Linked DNA regions of Homo sapiens. The protein of the gene in region 2 purifies or fractionates together with the protein of the main gene of each other region. This does not show direct contact. Each region holds a gene or a part of one and is shown on either strand. Other genes may lie near its edges.

Evidence for each region.
Region 1: the proteins of SPIRE1 (region 2) and NPHP4 purify together in Homo sapiens (co-immunoprecipitation; one study listed by IntAct). This does not show direct contact.

Annotation. Positions count from the first base shown.
Region 1 is NC_000001.11:5,989,622-5,994,120, forward strand, and holds the start of NPHP4 (nephrocystin-4), read right to left. Parts: upstream 2,805-4,499; 5' UTR 2,623-2,804; intron 2,304-2,622; exon of another isoform or gene 1,720-2,303; intron 1,351-1,719; exon of another isoform or gene 1,215-1,350; intron 1,207-1,214; exon of another isoform or gene 1-1,206. UniProt on the Homo sapiens protein: Involved in the organization of apical junctions; the function is proposed to implicate a NPHP1-4-8 module. Does not seem to be strictly required for ciliogenesis. Required for building functional cilia.
Region 2 is NC_000018.10:12,648,091-12,651,894, forward strand, and holds part of SPIRE1 (protein spire homolog 1), read right to left. Parts: intron 1-3,804.

The DNA.
Region 1 (4,499 bases), on a different chromosome or scaffold from region 2:
CCACTGATGTTTTATAACATTCAGAAATGTATTCACACACAATGCAGGCCGTGATGGCCCCAGGTGGGGATTTCAGAGAGGAAGTCTCTCCTGACGCAGATGCCCATGCTCCTCACCTGCCCCAGATTTCTGACCCGGTGCCTCCTGCCCTCTCCCTGGGTGTCTGCAGGACTCAGTGCCACACTTGGCCCAAGGACACTGCTGAAGGACGTGCATACGCCAGTCGACCCTCACAGGGAGCATGAAGCATGCCGGCCCCCTGCTGTACTAGGAGGGCAGACACTAGGCGGAAGGGCATCCATTCCGAAAGCACCTGCCACCCACACGGAAGTCCTGAGGCTCGGGATGTGGAGGCAGGGCAGTCCTAGTCTGAGGGGCCACGGAGGCCGAGGTGACACCTGAGACTCTGCAGGTGGGAGCCCAAGCGCCCGCAGCAGCTCTCACTGCCATCCCAGCACCTCACAAACCTCTCCGGGTGCCCTTCCACCTGCTCCTTGCTCCTTTCCACCTCTGCTCTGGCCTCTAGGAGTCAAACCAAATGCTCCCTCCTCAGAGCGAGAGCCCCATCCCCCACCTCCGGCTGCTCCCACACAGGGCAGGTGACAGAAGAGCCACCACGCTTCACCAGGGCTGTGCTGTAGTCCTGCGAGACTGTGAGCTCCATGACACCAGGCTGGGTCTTCAGCAAAAGTCTTTTAAGGATGAAATACAAATGCCCTGGAGGAAGTGCAGAGGGGCCTTTGGGGCCAAATCAACAATAAAAGAGAAAATCGAGAAGGCTCCAGGTCTTGAACCCAAGAAAAGGGTACAGTGGGCTCTCCAGGGGAAAAAAAAAAAGAAGAAGAAGAAAATACACCCACTTTTAATGAGCCCCTGATGCAAGACAGGAACTCACATTCTATGGTTACTATTCCAACAACTCTGCCAAATGAGAATCATCATTATCGCCATCTTACAGATGAGAACACTGAGACTCAGAAAGGATAAACAGCCAATCCAAGGTCACACAGCTAGCTATTATAACTAGCTATTATAATAGTATTATAGATATAATACTGTAAGCTATTATAACTACCTCCCACTACCTCAATCAAGGAGGCCAGGAGAGGCCAAGGGAGAAGAGAGGCCCAGAGGGAAAAAGTAAGAGCACCAAAGGAACCCAGGGCTAATGCTGTCTCCTCTTTAACTTCAGGACAGATTCGCAGCCTCCCCACCTGTTTCCAACCTCCAAAATGAGAGCTGTGAAATCTCCTTGAGATCTCTGCTTCTGCTGATCTATTCAGCAACTATTTCCCGAGCACTTGTGTTCCAGTGCATAAGAAGGCTGTCAAATGTGCTGTCTTCAAGCATCTAGAAAGCCAGTGGGGGAGAAAGACAAGAAAGTGACTGTGAGCAGCAACAGGCCCCCGGGAGGGTGCAGAGGTGAGCAGGGCTGAAGGAAGATGCAGGGGGTGGGAGGCGCTGTCAGGGTCCGGGAAGCCTCCTTCCCGGAATGGAAAATGTGTAATGCCTGAGACCCAGATGCCTTGGGGAGCTTTTGGGGAAGCAGAGGTCTGATTAAGCACTGCCTGGAATTCCCTCATTCATGAGCATTCTTTCAGCACCTACCCTGCGCCCGGGAGAAACGGTCTTGAACACAGCAGACAAGCTCGCTACCCCCATAGAATGTAAAGAAACGGGGCACAAATTAGCATACAAAAAGACACAAGTGTGACCTACGGAAACTGCACAGAGGAGGTGCAACGAACGGAGCCCTGGGTTAGGACCGGGAGGCGCTGCCCACCATCAACAGAAATACTCCTCCTTTTGCCAACTACACACGCGAGAGGCTGGATTTCCTTCACAGACGTCCACCAAAGCCACACATCGCGACACACGGAGGCAGAAAGCAGCGGTCTCCTAAGAAGTTAGACACGAGGAATCTCGGGCAGCGAGGTGCCTGCAAGCCCGGGGGCGGGCGGGAGCAGCCTGCACGCGTGGGGAAGGGCACGCGGGAGCGGGTGGCGCCTTCCGGGCCGGGTCGGCCGGGAGGTTCCAAGGCAGGAAAGGGGCGCAGAAGGCCGGGACGGCGCCGGGTACAAAGCCTCGCAGGGACGCCCGAAGGCCGCAGAGCCACCGCGGGGAACTGACAGCCGGAGCCGGAGCTGGAGCCGGGGGGCGGGGAGGAGGGGCGGAGGGGCGCGGCCAGGCGGGGTCCGCGGACTCCGGCCTGGGAAGGATGCGCGCGGACTAGGGCGCGGGGAGCCAAGGCCCAGAACATCGGTACCGCGCTCCCTTCAGCCGAGGGGCTGCAGAGAGGCCAGGGGGCAGGGGGCAGGGGGCAGGGGGCAGGGGGCAAAGGGCAAGGGCAGAAAGGAACCCACGTAGCCAAACGGCACCCAGCGGCCCCGACCCCAAGTGTCCCGACGAGGGGGGACGCCTGCGACTAACGCGGGGACAGCCCCCGCCGCGCGCCACCGCCGCACCCCAGGCACCGGGCCCCCACGCAGGGACGGCGTGGACCACCCTACCCCCGAACCCCGAGGCTCTGGCCAACACTGAGGCCCCCTGTGCCTCGAGGCCGCGTCCAACCTCCCCCGCGGCGCCGGCCCACATGGTTCCGCCCGCCGCGGGCCGCGTTACCTAGGAGACCGACCCGCCGCGGCCGCGCCGGAGGCCACGGAGCCCACGCTTTTCAGAGAGTCTCCACTCGACGGACCCAGAGGCCCGGCGGCCGGTGCTCAACGGAGCCACAAGCCTGAGGACCGAGGACTGGCCGAGGGGCGCGCCCCGTCCGCTGCCACCCGCGGGAGGAGCCTCGGAAGGCGGCGCACCGCGCCGCACACTCAGTCCAAGAACCCGCCTCGCGTCACTGTCGCCGTCAGGGCCGCGGAGCCAATCAGAGCCCAAGTCGAGGGCTGCGCTTTGCGAGCGCCAGCCAATCGGTGCGGCGGCGGGCCCATCCTGATTTGCATGTCCGACGACCCCTCAACCAATGGTAATGTGACTGGCGTGAACAATAGCCAATCAGAAGCTGGAAGAGGCGTGGCCCCGGGCGTCCCACGAGGTGAAGATGCTGCTGGCGGAACCTGCAGGAGCTAGCGGGATTCGGGGGCGCTAAAGTCGCAGGGGCAGGGCGGGAAGGAAGATCCGGCGCGGGGCACAGGATCCGGAGCTGGAGCCCCCAGGTGAGTACCGGGGAGACCCCGGCGGGGCGCGCTTTCCACCAAGCTGCTCCGGGACGGCGGCGGCGGGTATCCGCGAGGCCCGCGCTGCGGCAGGCGCCGCGGTCCCGTCTCCATCTCTTCTTCCCCGGCCCTGCGTCCCTGCCTCCGCCGCTGTCTCACCTCCTCTCCAGCCTCCTCACCTCCTTCTCCATCGTCTCCCTTCCCCCATCCCTTTCTGTCTTTCCTTCCCTGTCCTCCCGCCCGCCCGACCCTTCAGCTCGCATCCCTGACCCCTGCCCCTGCCGCCGTCCCTCTTCCCGGTGCACCTCTTCCCCATCTCTGCCCGCTCCGGTCCTAGCAGCCTCGCCCTCCCCTTTCCTCCATCCTCCTCTCATCCCCTCTCCCGGCCTCTGCGCAGCCCCACCGGGGCGCTGCTGTTCCCGGTCCTCCCCATCTCTCCTCCTGATCGCTTCTCAAGGCTCATCCGTCGTTCTCGCTGCCTGTCCCTGTGTCGCTCCGGTCCCTTTCCCCACCCTCCCATTCTGCCCCCAGCCCCTCCGACCTCTCCCCGCGGGCACGCTCTCACCACCTTACCCTGCTCCCCAAGACTGTGACCCTGCTTCCTGCACCAGTTCCTCGGGCTGTTTACAGCACACACACCGCCACTTCTGACCCTGAGCCCCTACTCCTATCTTAAGCTTCTCCCTCCTGCCAGGCCTTGGCACAAAGCACTTCCGCACCTCCCTACCTGCTGCTGCTCCCAGGATGCAAAGACCCCACTGCTGCACCGCGTCCTGCGGCATTAGCAGCAGCCGGGGTACCTGCCCACCTTCCCACCCCGCCAACCAGCCGCATCCTGGTGTCCCTCCTCCTGGCATTTGTCCTGGGGGCTCTTACAGGGACTGTGCTTTGCCCGCAGCATCCCGGGGTGCTCCAGGTGGAAAGCCCCTTAGCACCTTTCCTCCCTGGCCACCGTCTCCTTCCCTCCCCACCCCCACTTTCCTGCTCAGCCTCACTTTGTGATTCAGCATTTTTGGGGTTGGTAACTTTCTTGCTTCCTGTCGTGATAGGGACCTGGCTACGGAGCTGAAGGCAGGGGTCTTGACCCTGCGGTTAGCAGGGCCACCTTAGGAACCAGACCTGAGCTGCCTGGTTGGGAGGGGGCTGAGGAGCTGGGGACCGCCACTGGGGGTTGTCTTTTCCTCCCTTTCATTTGTCTGCCCTGTGTTGAACTGTGTCCAAGGGGAGATGACATAAGTAATAGCTCTTGGGGAAGTGGGCTATTAGCATTTATGGAAATTAATACATCCACATCCGAGGAGCAAGAACACCAAGTTCAGGCCACAGCTGTCC
Region 2 (3,804 bases):
AATATATAAGTAAATGGAGGAGAAGGCACAAATCTTCTTCACAGAATTCAAAATAACTCTAAGAAGATATTCACGTCTCCAGGAGGTGGTTTAATTACCTGGCCCTATCCTTGAACGCAGGCTGGAATTAATGACTCCTTTCTAAAGAACAACATATTAAAAAAAGGTAAAAATAGTAACTTTTTAGTGGAGAAACCTGACAACACTGTCTTAATCAAGTGTCCAGGTTATCGTAGCCAGTGATGTCACATGGTTATCATGTGCCCCAACATGATGTGATCAGGGGGAGCCCTTCACCTCGCTGGTATTCTTCCCCCAAAACTATAACCCAGTCTAGCCATAAAAATACCAGGCAAGTCCAAATGGAGGGACATTTTACAAAATAGCTGACCAGTACTTGCCAAGACTGTCAAGATCATGATAAACTGTCACAGACCAGAAGAAACTAAGGAGATATGATGACTAAATGCAATATGGTATCTCGAATGGGATTTCTGCAATAGAAAAAGGACACTAAGGCCAAGCACAGTGGCTCACGCCTGTAATCCCAGCACTTTGGGAGGCCGAGGCGGACAGATCACCTGAGGTCAGGAGTTTGAGACCAGCCTGACCAACATGGAGAAACTCCGTCTCTACTAAAAATACAAAATTACCCAGGTGTGGTGGCAGGTGCCTGTAAATCCCAGCTACTCGGGAGGCTGAGGCAGGAGAATCCCTTGAACCCAGGAGGTAGAGGTTATGGTGAGCCAAGATCGCGCCATTGCACTCCAGCCTGGACAAGAAGAGCGAAACTCCGTCTCAAAAAAAAAAAAAAAAAAAAAGAAAAAGGACATTAATAGAAAAACTGGGGAAACCCAAATGAAGTCTGGAGTTTAGTTAATAGCAATGCATCAATGTTGTTTTTTCAGTTTTGACAAATATACCACAAGAATATAAAATGTTAACATTTAGGGGAACTGGGTGAGGGGCAAATAAGAATTATCTGCATTCTCTTTTCAACTTTTCTGTAAATCTAAAATTATCCCAAAATAAAAAGTTTGGTCAGGCACAGTGGCTCGCACCTGCAATTTCAGCACTTTGTGAGACTGAGGCAGGTGGATCATTTGAGGTCAGGAGTTCAAGAGCAGTCTGGGCAACATTTTTCTCCACTAAAAAATAAAAATAAAAAATTAGCCAGAAGTGGCAGCACACACCTGTGGTCCCAGCTACATGGGAGGCTGAGGTAGGAAGACTGCTTGAATCCAGGAGCCGGGGGCTGCAGCGAGCTATGATCATACTACTGCACTCCAGCCTGAGCAAGAGAGAAAGACCCTGTCTCTTAAAAAAAAATTTTTTTGACTAAAAATTCCCACTACATTTGGTAACTCAATATTTCCTTCATAGTTTTAAACAAATATCTGAAAGAAGTTATTTTCCTTTTTTCTACTTAGCCAACAAGAAGTAAAAGGGAAATACATACAGCTCTAATGACACTGTTATGAAAGCAGGATGAGAACTGCTGTTATTTTATAGGACCAATGATACAGGAGAGTGAATCTGACCTTCCATATATAACAAGCAGAGTGCAACTCATCATCTCTTATCAACATATAGTCCTTGGTAGCTCAATGATTTTTTTCTTCTAAAGTTTAGTCAAAACTCTTAGTGAGGCCAATGGTTTCCTAAGAGTCCTAACTTACTTGAGGACTAATATCTGTAGATGACTAAATTCTTTCTACTGTTTCCCTCTGCAAAAGTAGAAACACAGATACAAAACCACAAATACATTATTCCAAAATTTCTCCCCAAAACTCTTGTGACCCCTCTCTTATAACCCAACACACGTAGAAATATATTGCATGGTAAATTGGAACCAAAAGTGACAGTAGGTCAGGCTTGGTGGCTCACGCCTGTAATCCCAGCACTTTGGGAGACCAAGGCAGGCAGATACTTGAGGCCCAGAGTTTGAGACCAGCATGATCAATATGGAAAAACCCTGTCTCTACTAAAAATACAAAAATTAGCCAGGCGCAGCGGCATGTGCATGTAATCCCAGCTATTTGGGAGGCTGAGGTGCGAGAATTGCTTGAACCTGGGAGGCGAAGGTTGCAGTGACCCGAGCTCGTGCCACTGCACTCCAGCCTGGGCAACAGACTAAGACTCTGTCTCAAAAAAAATAAATAAACAAATAAATAAAAGTGACAGCAGGCCAGGCATGGTGGCTCATGCCTGCAATTCCAGCACTTTGGTAGGCCAACGTGGGCAAATCACTTGAGCCCAGAAGTTCCAAACAAAACTAGGCAACATGGCAAAATCTCTGTCTCTAAAAAACGATATAAAAATTACCCAGGCATGGGCCAGGTGGTAGTGGTGGCTCACATCTATAATCCCAGCACTTTGGGAGGCCGAGGTGGGTGGATCATGAGGTCAGGAGTTCGAGACCATCCTGGCTAATATGGTGAAACCCCGTCTCTACTAAAAATACAAAAAATTAGCTGGGCGTGATGGCACGTGCCTGTAGTCCCAGCTACTCGGGAGGCTGAGGCAGGAGAATCGCTTGAACCCGGGAGGCAGAGGTTGCAGTAAGCCAAGATCACGCCGCTGCACTCCAGCCTGGTGACAGAGCAAGACTCCATCTCAGGAAAAAAAAAAAAAAAAAATTACCCAGGCATGGTGACACATGCCTGTAGTCCCAGCTACTCGGGAGGCTGAGGTGGGAGGATTGCTTGAATCTGGGAGGTCAAAGCTGCAGTGAGCCGATCAAACCACTGCACTACAGCCTGGGTGACAAAGCGAGACCCTGTCTCAAAAAAAAAAAAAAAAAAAGTGATAGCAATCTTATCCAATTACAGCTAAAATCTTAATTTTGCAAATGAACATCTAAACTTACTGTTAAGGCTCCTCCCACTCACTTAGAAGGGGCCTGTGTAAATGAAGGGACTTGAAGTTTAAGCTGCATTAGATTCATGGTAAATTCACCACTGTGTTTCTGTTTTATTTTCTCTTCTTTAATGACTAGAACTATTTGCCCTTACATCACCCATGTAAAACTAGAACACTACTTGTACATAGTAGGAACTCAAAGCATATTTGTTAGATTGAATTAACCTGACATATTTGAACTTATTATTCAAAGAGAACAATTTTTATCTATTACTGTAACTGATAAGGCATTTCACCAATCTCTAATTCTACCATTCACCCCCACTACCTACTCTGGAAACCTACACATATACTTCATATATTCCTTTCCTTTAATGATCAGGATGGGAACACAAGAAATACAGAAAGAGCAGACCAAAAAAAATGTTTTTAAACATTTTTTTGCTGGGTGCGGTGGCTCACGCCTGTAATCCCAGCACTTTGGGAGGCTGAGGTGGGTGGATCACAAGGTCAGGAGATGTAGACCATTCTGGACAACATGGTGAAACCCGTGTCTACTAAAAATACAAAAATTAGCCGAGCATGGTGGCGGGCGCCTGTAGTCCCAGCTACTCAGGAGGCTGAGGCAGGAGAATCGCTTGAACCCAGGAAGCGGAGGCTGCAGTGAGCCGAGATCACGCCACTGCCTCCAGCCTGAGCAACAGAGCGAGACTCCATCTCAAAAAAACAAAAACAAAAAAAACATATTTTTTCACTATTTCAACCTTTTCCACAAATATTCTCTCTTTAAAATCAAATAGGATTTTATGCCAAGACGATCTTCCCCTCCAAATTAGCATGAACCTTGCTGAGAAGCTTGACTGATCGTATCCTCTTTTCAAAACCCAAACAAAGCCTGAATGTTCCCTATACCAAGAAACCATTCTCAAGGGATCCCTTTAT